Linked DNA regions of Homo sapiens. The protein of the gene in region 1 purifies or fractionates together with the protein of each later gene. This does not show direct contact. Each region holds a gene or a part of one and is shown on either strand. Other genes may lie near its edges.

The links.
Region 2: the proteins of DCDC2B (region 1) and FAT3 purify together in Homo sapiens (affinity purification with mass spectrometry; 2 studies listed by BioGRID and IntAct, with this or other methods). This does not show direct contact.
Region 3: the proteins of DCDC2B (region 1) and PSMG4 purify together in Homo sapiens (affinity purification with mass spectrometry; 2 studies listed by BioGRID and IntAct, with this or other methods). This does not show direct contact.

Annotation. Positions count from the first base shown.
Region 1 is NC_000001.11:32,206,709-32,210,459, reverse strand, and holds the start of DCDC2B (doublecortin domain-containing protein 2B), read right to left. Parts: upstream 1,372-3,751; 5' UTR 1,367-1,371; coding exon 1,101-1,366; intron 1-1,100. Other genes in the region: IQCC (IQ domain-containing protein C), read right to left, coding at 2,378-3,220, 3,340-3,458, 3,699-3,751.
Region 2 is NC_000011.10:92,794,674-92,798,424, reverse strand, and holds part of FAT3 (protocadherin Fat 3 isoform 1 precursor), read right to left. Parts: intron 590-3,751; coding exon 1-589.
Region 3 is NC_000006.12:3,257,035-3,260,785, reverse strand, and holds the start of PSMG4 (proteasome assembly chaperone 4), read right to left. Parts: upstream 1,840-3,751; 5' UTR 1,764-1,839; coding exon 1,590-1,763; intron 1-1,589. UniProt on the Homo sapiens protein: Chaperone protein which promotes assembly of the 20S proteasome.

The DNA.
Region 1 (3,751 bases):
GTTGTGCGATCTCAGCTCACTGCAACCTCCGCCTCACGGGTTCAAGCGATTCTTCTGCCTCAGCCTCCTGAGTAGCTGTGATTATAGGCACGTGCTACCAGGCCTGGCTGATTTTTTTTTTTTTTTTTTTTTTTAGATGGAGTTTCACTCTTATTGCCCAGGCTGGAGTGCAGTGGCACGATCTCGGCTCACTGCAACCTCTGCCTCCAGGTTCAAGCGATTCTCCTGCCTCAGCCACCCGAGCAGCTGGGATTACAGACATGCGCCACTACGCTCAGCTAATGTTGTAGTTTTAGTAGAGATGGGGTTTCTCCATGTTGGTCAGGCTGGTCTTGAGCTCCTGACCTCAGGTGATCTGCCCGCCTTGGCCTTCCAAAGTGCCGGGATTACAGGTGTGAGCCATCGTGCCTGGCCAATTTTTGTATTTTTAGTAGAGACAGAGTTTCGCCATGTTGGCCAGGCTGGTCTCGAACACCTGACCTCAGGTGATCCACCCGCCTTGGCCTCCCAAAGTGTTAGGATTACAGGCGTGAACCACCGTGCCCAGCCACTTACTCCCTCTTGATCCTTACATTATAGTAAGCAACCTCAGCTGAGAGCTAAGAGTAGGACCTGGAAGCCAGACATGAGTCAGAGACTCAGGTACTCAAATTCTTCTCCCACCCTGGGAGACAGTCTCCTCCTGCAACAGAGGATGGCCCTAGCCTAACGGGAGAGTCTGGGATGCCTATGCACAGTGGGGAGGAATGGATGGGTGGATTTAGAGTGTTCAGTGATAGGGGGTCCAAGCAAGAAGAGCTTTTGGAAAAAGGGGCTCACCCTGTGGGAGAGTGGTCTTCCCACAGGCTGATCTTGGCTGTGATGGGCATAAACATTAGTAACACACAGAATTCTATTTGAATTTCAGTTCAACTATTTGTTATGTACTTTTAGGCAGGTTTTCTGTCTGTTTTCCCTTTCTAATGGAGGCAAAACCACCCCCCCTACATAGAGTTCAGTAAGTACCAGTAACATGCTGGTACATACATGGTAGGTACTGAATACACGCTCTTGCCGTTACCTCCCTTGCTAGGCTGTTTGACCAGCCCCAGCCCACTCACTGGAGCTTGTGGAATCGTTCAAATCCAGCGGCCACATACTGCCCTCTGTTCTTCAAGTCTGCCAGGTTGGTGACAGGGTGGCCATGACAAGGTGTGTAGAGGGCACGCACAGCCAGTGGGGCCTGCACAGCTGATGTCACCTCGCAGAGGAAGGCCTCCATGGTGGGGAAGCGGCGTTGAGTCACCACCAGCTGGGAGCCTGGGAAGAATGGGTCCCCATTCCGGTACACCACTACCCTCTTGGCTGCTGGACTGCCACCTGCCATAGTGTATCCTCAGTCAGAGAAACAGACCTGTTGCCAGGCAACCAAGGAAGGGCTGGGAACATTGCCAATCAGAGGTGGAGTCCTGCCCTCTCACCCAGGAAGGCAGAGGGAGACTGTGGCAGGAGCATTTATCTGCATTCAGGGTTTTATCCCATCTGCCCTGGGGAGATCACACTTAAACATAGGTGTTACCCTACTCTCCAGAGCCTCCTTGCCACTCTAAAGCACAAGGCTGAGCTCAATTGGGGATCAGCTTTGGGAGCTGTTCCCTAAGGAGGATGGCTAGATCTTTTCCTGGGCCATGGCTCCCAGCTGGCTCCGGGGTCAATGCCCCATGCCAGTAGGAAGTGAACGGCAGGGCCCAGAATCTGTCCTGGCCAGAAGCAGAAATGAAAGCAGCCAGACTCAGAATCTAAGAAAAACCTTTATTCCCAACAGACCTCTCATTCTACTTCCCCCAGGTAACTCCTTAGCCACACATTTGTTTTTTGAGACCGTGTCTCGCTCTGTAGCCCAGGCTGGAGTGCAGTGGCATCATCTTGGCCTACTGCAATCTCCATCTCCTGGGTTCAAGCGATTCTCCTGTCTCAGCCTCCCGAGTAACTGGGACTACAGGCATGCACCACCACGCCTGGCTAATTTTTATATTTTTAGTTGAGATGGGGTTTCATTTCACCATGTTGGTCAGGCTGGTCTCAAACTTCTGACCTCAGGTGATCCACTCACCTTGGCCTCCCAAAGTGCTGGGATTACAGGTGTGAGCCACTGCACCCGGCCCCTTATCCACAAATTTGGATTGAGCTACAGGCAGAGGATTGAAAATGTGTCCTTCCTCCTTCCCTATACTCATGCCAGCTCTCTGCTCCAGCTTCTCTTGGCCCCACTAGTCACCAATGGCCAGGGGCAGGAGCAGAAGCCAGAGCTGGTCAGGGAGGTAGGATGAGGTCTTGTCTCACTGCCCTTTCATAGCATTCCCCTTTGGAACCTGATCCTCTCCTGGCTTCCTAGGGTCTAGCCAGGTGGTTCTGTTTTCCATGGCCTGCCCCTCCACTGTTCCTCTCCTGTACAGCCTGCCTTTGTAGAAGACAGAATCTCAGGTGACTTTGATCTCCATGGTATAGTCCTCTGCTTTTTCTGTCCTTCATGACTAGGCTCATTGGAGGTTCCATCTCTGGAGCTTCTATCAGTGGGGGCCTGGCCTTTGGGTGGTTTAGTCCTCCAGAGATCGAGGACACTATGCTCTGGCCCCCCCAAGGTACCATCCCAGATGATGTGGTCCTCTGAGAGGCCCAACTCTTGTGTCCTGACTGTTCGGCAGTCAGGCTCTTTGTGGTCTAGTTTTCTGGGAGACATCTCCTTAATATTTGAGTCCTCATAGAGTGCAGACAGCTGTGTCCTGGACTTCCTGGGACAATGGTTCCTAGGTTTTAAACCTCTGGGGGTCTGGTCCTCCAGGATTTTCATCTGCAGCAGGCAGGTCCCTCCAAAGGTCTGTCTTCCATCGTCTGGCCCTTTGGTGAGCCTGTCCCCCAAGGCCTGGCTGTTTGATGGTATAGACGACGGTGGTCCAGACTTGCTGTAGCATGGTTCTCTGCACTTAGCCCCAGCAATGTTTTTTTGTGTAGTGGCCAAACTTCCTGGGGATCTGTGGGGTGATTTGACCCTGTGACAGGAGTCATCCTCCTGTTCTAGCTCTCCAGTGGTCCTGTCTCTGTAGGACTGGTCCTCCAGTGGTGCGCTTGGTTGTGACTGGTCCCTCTCACAGGCCTGTTCCCCATGTTCTAGGAACACGCGGGGTTCCTCTCTGATCGGGCCCGCCTCTGGGGATCTCAGTGTTTGTTTAAGAAGTAGGTACTGTTGGGGGAGAGAACATACATTGTACCAAGCAGGCCTGCTTGGGCATGGCAGGTCGTCTCTCCCTAACCCCCACCCTTGACCCTAAATGTTCAGAAAGAGTTCCAGGTTAGTGTTACCTCCTTACGGCTATTGATGGCCTGTTGCAGCCACAGCAATTCCATGGCCAAGTGGCTGCGGTGGTACTGAAGCTCTTGAAGCTGAGGTTGGCTGTGGGGCAGTCTTTGATCTGTGGCTTCTGTGAAGGAGGGAAGAAAGGAAGGAGAAAACCTTGAGGGACCAGACCCTGGGAAATGGCCTAGCCTTAGACTTTGGAAACTCCCTCCCCTGCACTGCCCAACCATGTGGTGGCCCTATCCCGGCAGAGGGAAGACGGGAAAGGGATGCAGCTTATCTAGCGCAAGCCTTTCACTCTTCAGATGGGAGGCTGAGGCACAGTGAGGGTCAGGGGCTTGCCCTGATCTTTGCAGAGAGGTACCTGGATTCTCCATCCTTGTCGTGTCTCTGGTCTTCTCTTGGCTGGGTTTCCTG
Region 2 (3,751 bases), on another chromosome or scaffold:
TCAGCATCTGTGGCTCGAATCACCAGTGGGCTGTTATCCAAGCTCCTGACAATGCTATTAATTGGGGCAGCCTCACTTAGGCTGCCTGAGTATTGAGAAAAGAGAAAAACTGGGGCATTATCATTTTCATCAACAATCTGAATATTGACTGTAGCATTGGAAGCCATTCCTGCCATATTGGTGGCCTGAATGATGAGTTGATAAGAGGATGTGCGCTCATAATCCAGGGCCTTCTGAGTGGTGATGACTCCAGAATATGGATTTATGGTAAAGATCCCATTAATGTCTCCATCTTTGACTTCATAAATGAGGGTAGATTGACTGATGGCAGAGATTAGAATGACTGATGTTCCAATGTCAACATTTTCATTTACTTCTGCTTGGTAGTCTTTGTGAATGAACTTGGGGTGAGAATTGTCAGACATGGTGACGGAAATGCGCACAATTGCAGTAGCAGACATTGGCGGGGATCCCTGATCTGTGACTTTGATGGATAGGACAAACTGACCCATCGTCGTCATGTCTGGTTCTTTGCAAATGGTGATGATGCCTAGGACCGGTTCGATCTTAAACATGTTCCCAGTGTTCCCTAAAATACAGAAATCAATGGTGAAATGAGTTACATGTGGGTCACTGAAATCTTTTTGATTAACTCTTTATCTATAGGTACCTTACTGCAATGTGGCAAGTAGAAAGCAATTATAGTACTCATCTGTGTCATTCTGAAATAAAATGAGAGGCTTCTCTTTCAGGGGTACTGAAAAGGAACCAAAATGAGTTTCCCAGTATTATAGTAAATTTCAGATCAGTAACTTCTAGATCCAGGTTAAAAACACAATGACAATGACACAGTCTTATGTGCATTCAAGTTGGGAAATAAGAGAGCCCGAAGGAGAGATCTTTCTGCTAAGAATGTATAGGACTTCCTTATTTCCAGCCTTGTGAGAAGACAGATAGATTGGGAAGCCCACATATGAATGCCACTGGTTTAGGTAGCAGTGTCATATTTTCTGTTCTAGGTTTAAAGAAAGAGGGTTGTGGGAATAGTTTCAGAGCATTATAAAGTAGTCAGTTGTTTTCTGATTATCCCAAAAGCAAACTTCGCTACATGGAATTGGTATTATTTCACCCTATCAAAAATGACTTTATCCAAAACACTACTTTGGTGAAGGGGTTTGTTCAGTCAGGTGTGGAGAATTCTTGGCAAGTCATTATTTGCCTTGTAAGTGTGATGAATTTTCCTGACTTCTCTTCTATTCTCCACTCATGCTCTACCCCTCTCTCATGCTTCTGAACACACACATGCACACATCTAGACATAAAAGTAAACATAAAAAGTTATAGGGCAGTTGCTCAATCTGTAACCATTCTATTCACCAAGCATTTGAGGTGTTTCTAGTGTACCAAGAAACTGTTGGGAATCTGAACCAGCACTGCAACCAAGAACCTGAGACATAATCCTTGTGAAACTGAAACCTGGGCACCCCACTTTGATAGAGCTGGCAGGGGAAGGGCTCTGGCCATGACACTGTAGTAGTTTACAGCTCTGCTTCAGAAACATGTTGTGGTTCGAAATCTGGGATTGTTGAGAATGAGAGAAATAACAGAGGAATAAAAAATGGGGAAGACACAATGTGGAGTATGTAAAGAAGGTAGGTGGTGACAGAGCTGAAAGGCAGTGGGTAGTGTGAAGTTGCATCCCTCACCAAGTTGCTTTTTGCTTCTCTTATCAGGCTTTCTCATACTTCTCAAAGAACACATATACTTCTGTGTTGAGATCCTTTCCAATCAAAAGTTAAAGATCTTGGTTATTCAACTCTATCTGGACTTTTCTTTCTGAGTATTGTAGTATGATAGGTATATAATTTAAATGTTAAAATCATTAAAATAGGGACCAGGATTTTCAGGGCAGTTATGAGATGTGTCTACATACCTCTTCCTACATGCTAATTATATAAAGTTTTCCATGTCTGAACACAAAATGGTCATGTTCATGTAACATCTATTTCAAGAAGATACTTGCTTATTTTAAAAGACAAAGTATATCTAATAAAGAGGTCATTTTGATTCCAGCCCCCCCAAATGTGAATATTAAACAATGTTGTCTTTGATGTCGGCATGATTTATTACTTTGCCACCTAAACATGGCCATTTTGTGATGACAATAATAAAAAGTTCAATGATCTTATGAGTAAACGTTCAAGCTTGCAATGAATAGTGTCATAGAATTGAGTGTGAATCCAACAGGTGATCCACAGAACTTTATAAGGGGAAATCACTTCACCTAAGCAATGGTCACCTTCCAGTGATGGCACCAACATGCAACCCTGACTGATGAATGCTACTGGAGCCAGGGATCTCGGTGTTCACTGATTATGGTGCCCGACTGCAGAGTTTCTAGGTAAGTCCTCCCTCACTCCACACCCGGCAGATTTCTTCATGCCCAGAAAGATAGATTATGGTGGGGATGGCAGGGAGCCAGCTTTTGACCTCAAATATAATTTTTTGTTTTTTTTTGAGATGGAGTCTCGCTCTGTCATCCAGGCTGGAGTGCAGTGGTGCAATCTTGGCTCACTGCAACCTCTGTCTCCTGGGTTCAGGTGATTCTCCTGCCTCAGCCTCCAGAGTAGCTGGGACTGCAGGCAGGCACCACTACACCTGGCTAATTTTCATGTTTGTAGAGACGGGGTTTTGCCACGTTGGTCAGGCTGGTCTCAGACTTCTGACCTCAAGTGATCCACCTGCCTTGGCCTCCAAAAATGCTGGGATTACAGGCACGAGCCACTGTGCCTGGCCTCAAGTAGAAATTCATAATCCTGCTATCCCATGGCCGCTGATCTGCTTGTGACACGCTTCCAGAATGGTGTGCTGATACATCAGGTCCAAAGTGGGCCCTTCTCCTCTTTCCCTCTTTGACACACTGACCCATTCTCTTGGAATCCACTTCCTGCTTATTCTTTCCTGCTACACTTGAATCCTGAAAAATTGGCCTCTGTTTGTTTTTTGGAATCTATGGCCTCTTGTAGATTTTTGGCAATTGAATAAAAGCTGTGCTTTTCTTATCATTCCTTATCTAGTACACAACACAGCATCTGCTACAAAGAAGTTGCTTAATATTTGTTGAATGATTGAGAGGAGAGGTAAATCTAAAAAAAATATTTTAAACTCTCTATTCATATGCATCTTGGGATCCATATGCCCTCACCCGAACTCAACTCAGTCCCAGTCTCTCTTGTACAATCCTGCCTCAGACTCACCATTGACACCAAACACAAAACTCAAACTAGATATAAGACCTGAAGCTCTGCACTCAAATTCTGCCTCAGTCCTTCAGGCCAAAATAAAAAGCTTCCGTAGTTACTTTAGAGGACAGGCAGGAGACAGGAAATTTATAGCCCACCAATAAACAGAGTGAAATCTTGCTTATCTGATGTGTGTGAGAAAAGTTAAATAAAACATAATACTTTACACAGCCATTTGTCATTTGCTTCAAAGTGCTGAAGCATCTGGGATCTGCCTGTCTCCCACCCTCAACTGGGAAGAAACTTGCTCCTCTAGGACCAGTGCGGACCAGTGTGGGTTTGTCTGTCTGTCTGTGAAGAGCCCTGCTGGTCATTTGAGATTTATTGTGAACATTGTAATCCTCAATAGTTTCTTACATACAATCAAAGGTCATTTTTTTTGCGATATCAATTGTTCCCATGGTTTTCTGGAAGTTTGGGTTTTCTTTATGAAAGATGTTTTAAGGAAA
Region 3 (3,751 bases), on another chromosome or scaffold:
ATTCTGTTGCCCTGGTTACAAGGCAGTGTTGTGGCCTGAATTGTGTCTCCCCAAAAAATATGTTGAAGTCCTAACCTCTGGGTACCTATGAATGTGACCTTGTTTGTAAACAGGGTCTCTGCAGATGTAAATAAGATGTAATTTAGACCAGGCGCGGCGGCTAACGCCTATAATCCCGGCACTTTAGGATAAAGATTAGCATAAAGATTCTTTACTTCCAAAGGGACTTGCTTGCCTTTGGGAGGCCGAGGCAGGCGGATCACGAGGTCAGAATTTCGAGATCAGCCTGGCCAACATAATGAAACCTCAGCTCTACTGAAACTACAAAAATTAGCCCGGCGTGATGGCTCACACCTGTAATCCCAGCTACTCAGGAGGGTGAGGCAGAACTGCTTGAACCTGGGAGGCGGAGGTTGCAGTAAGCCAAGATCACGCCATTGCACTCCAGCCTGGGCGACAGAGCAAGACTTTGCTTCAAAAAAAAAAAAAAAAAATATATATATATATACAATTTAAGACAAGGTTATACTGGAGTAGGATGGGCCCTTAATCCAACATTACTGATGTCCTTATGAGAAGAGTCGGGCTCACTGAGGAAGGAGGATCATCACTTGAGGCCAGGAGTTCAAGAACAGCCTGGGCAAAATAGTGAGACCCCCATCTCTACAAAAAAACACAATTAGCCAGGTATGGTGGCACATGTCTGTAGTCCTAGCTACTCGGGAGGCTGAGGAAGGAGGATCACTTAAGCCCAGGAGTTTGAGGTGACAGTGAGCTATAATAATGACACTGTACCCCAGCCTGGGTGACAGTGAGAGACCTTGTCTACAGATCTTTGAGAATAAACCTCTGTTGTTTTAAGCCACGCGGTCTGTGGCACTTTCTTACAGCTGCCTCAGGAAACCAGGAGAAACCAGGCGGCGACACGCAAAGCCGGAAAGGCGGGAGAGGAGGGGAAATGATAATGTCCCAGGCTTGGCCCAGCGCGGCAGGGTGAAGGTGAGGGCGGCTTGGGTTTTGTCTGCTTTGACTGGCGGCAGTGCCTAGGGACTCAGCACGTGGAGTGTGAAGAAAGAGGAATCAAAGACAACTGCGAGGCTCTGAACGCACAGCCAGGAAGATGGAGCTGCCATCACAGCGCCAGTCAGGCGGAGGAGGGAGCAGGTTTGGAGAAGAGAGCCTGATGTGTGCCTAGTGCGAAATGCCTGAGACATCCAGTGGAGACGCAAGAGTCCCCAAAAAATTATCAGTGTGCTCAAAATCCAGATGGCAGGAGAGCTACGAGGCAGACGCGTCCCCCAGCGAGCGTGTGGCGAGGACAGACCCAAGACATTCTGACCTACAGAGACCAGTGCGGGACGCAGCTGCGGGGCGGCGGGACAAGGAGAGGGGCCCGGGGCCCGCGCGCAGCTCCCGAGGTGGTGCAGGCCCTGGCGCCCGCGGGCTTCCTAAGACATCCCACGGGTGGGCTTCGGGGGAGTAGGGCGCCCTGTGGACCCAAGAGAAGCCTGGGGGGCTGCAGCTCGCGCAGGCCCGGCGCCCCCGCGCCCCCGCCCCGCCGCCCGCACCCTCGGCCGCCAGGCACTCACGTAGCGGCTGCACATGGCCACGGCGAGGTTGCGCAGGTGCGGCGTGGCCCCCACCCACAGGAACAGCGAGTCCGTCAGCCGCATGACGTGGAAGTGGACCAGCTGCTCCCACAGCCTCGCGCTGAAGTTGTGCAGGGAGACGTCCCCGCCGGCGGCGACAACCAGCCCCTCCATGCCGCCCCACGGCTCCCGGCCCACAGCGCCAGACCCGGGTCCTCGCCGCTGCCAGCCCCGCCAGACCCGATGGAGCGAGCACCGAGAGACCGAGCGCGCTTTCGCTTTCGGCCCCGGAAGGGCGGGGGTGAGGGGCGTGGTCGGGGAGGGGCGATCCCGGGCTTGGGTTGGGGGCGTGGTCGAGGCGGGGCGGCTGCCGGCCCTGGGCGGAGTAGCTGTCCCTGGTTGTCTTGCTGGCCTCTCCCGCACACCAGTACCTCTCTGGACGGGCTGGGGAAACCCACTTGAGTAGCAGAGTGCGACAGTGACCTCTAGGAGTCCACGGGCGCCCAGCAGAACTCACCCTCGCTTTGTTTCCCCCCACCCCCTAATTATTACTGACGCGGGGCATTCAAGGGCTGAAGCCAGCCGCACCGTCCTCCCAGGCCGTGACACTTCGCCCTACAGACATTAATTTAATTAAAAATTTAAAAAGACTGATTTTTAATTAGTTCTTCAAGCACTCTGAGAACGGCCACCTCCCGTCCCACCTCCTCCTCCTAGCAGCCCTTTAACTCCAAGGAGGCTTCGACGGCACCCAGCCCTAATTAAGAATGGCAACGGTATTGGGAGAAAGCCTTTAGAAAGGAAAATTGTGTCAACTAAGTTGGCAGGAGGATGGGCAGGCACCCTTTTGGACGCCGAGTCCCAAGCTGCAGTCATGTACATGGCCTCGGGCTACCCCCTTAACCTCTCTGAGACTCAGTTTCCTCATCTGCAAAATGCAAATAAGAACAGGTGCCTTTCGGAGACGTGGAAAGGATCTCAAGAGAGATTAATGGGAAGCACCAACAATCATCCAATCATCCCATTGTCATACCTATGGGGAGACCCCTTGAACACTTCAGGACATTACAGAGTTGAGAAAAGGAAGCCTTGATGGGTTAAGAGAGAAGGTGGTAAAAGAAAACAGCCCATTTTGTCAGATTCTGTTACAACTGACTTTAGAGATTTAACTTGGAACTATAAAAGGTCTGCTTTAAAAATCTCTAATAGATCTAAGTTGACTAAATTGAAATTTAAGAGGGCATTTTCCATAGTTCTATTTGCTAATTATCGATGATTCAATAATACAGTTAATTTTCAGGTCAATATTTTAACAGCTTTATTAAAATGTGATTAACATACAATAACTGCACATATATAGTGTACAAATTGAAGTCTTGACACGTTATAGCCAGTGAAATCATCATCACAATCCACAAAGTGAACGCGTCCAGTACTCCCTCCTGCCCTCAGTAATGACTCCTGCCCCCAACCACTGATCTGCTTCCTGCCACACAGATTAGTCTGCATTTTCCAGAGTTTTGTATCAGTGGAATCACACAGTATGTACTGTTTTTTGTCCAGCTTCTTTCCTTCATCATAATTATCTTGGGTTCATCTGCTTGTGTGTCAATGGCTTGTGTCTTTGTATTACTAAGCAGTGTTCCATTGTATGGCTACACCATAATTGTTTTATCCCTTTACTTTGTGATTTGAGGCCCTTCAATCAGCTAGGAGGACCCAAAGATTAAGGAAACAAAGTTACCGACCGGTGGAGAGTTCAAGGCCTGGCTGGCATGGCAAATTTCTCAATCTGGATTGTAATGATGGTTTCACTGGTTATACATGTCTCAAAACCTCAATGCTCCTCTCTCTCTCCAGCTTTGCTGTCACTGCTCGGGAAACACACAGGCAGAGGGTCACAGCCAGTCATGCCCAACATCAGCGGCCCTGGAACACTGCCCTGCAGTCCCTAGACAGCGTCCTCTCTCACTCCCCTTGACTATGCTCCCCAAACCCTGAGCTGACCCAAACCCAAGTTCAGCAGATGCCCTTGCTTCTGATGTTATGCAGAAAATAGAGGTGACAAAGCCAGATTTTCCCAGCTCCTTGTCCCTCTCCTAAAATGCTTATCTTCATTGGACCCTATCTTTCCTTCTGCTCACTCTGTGACAGTGAAAGAT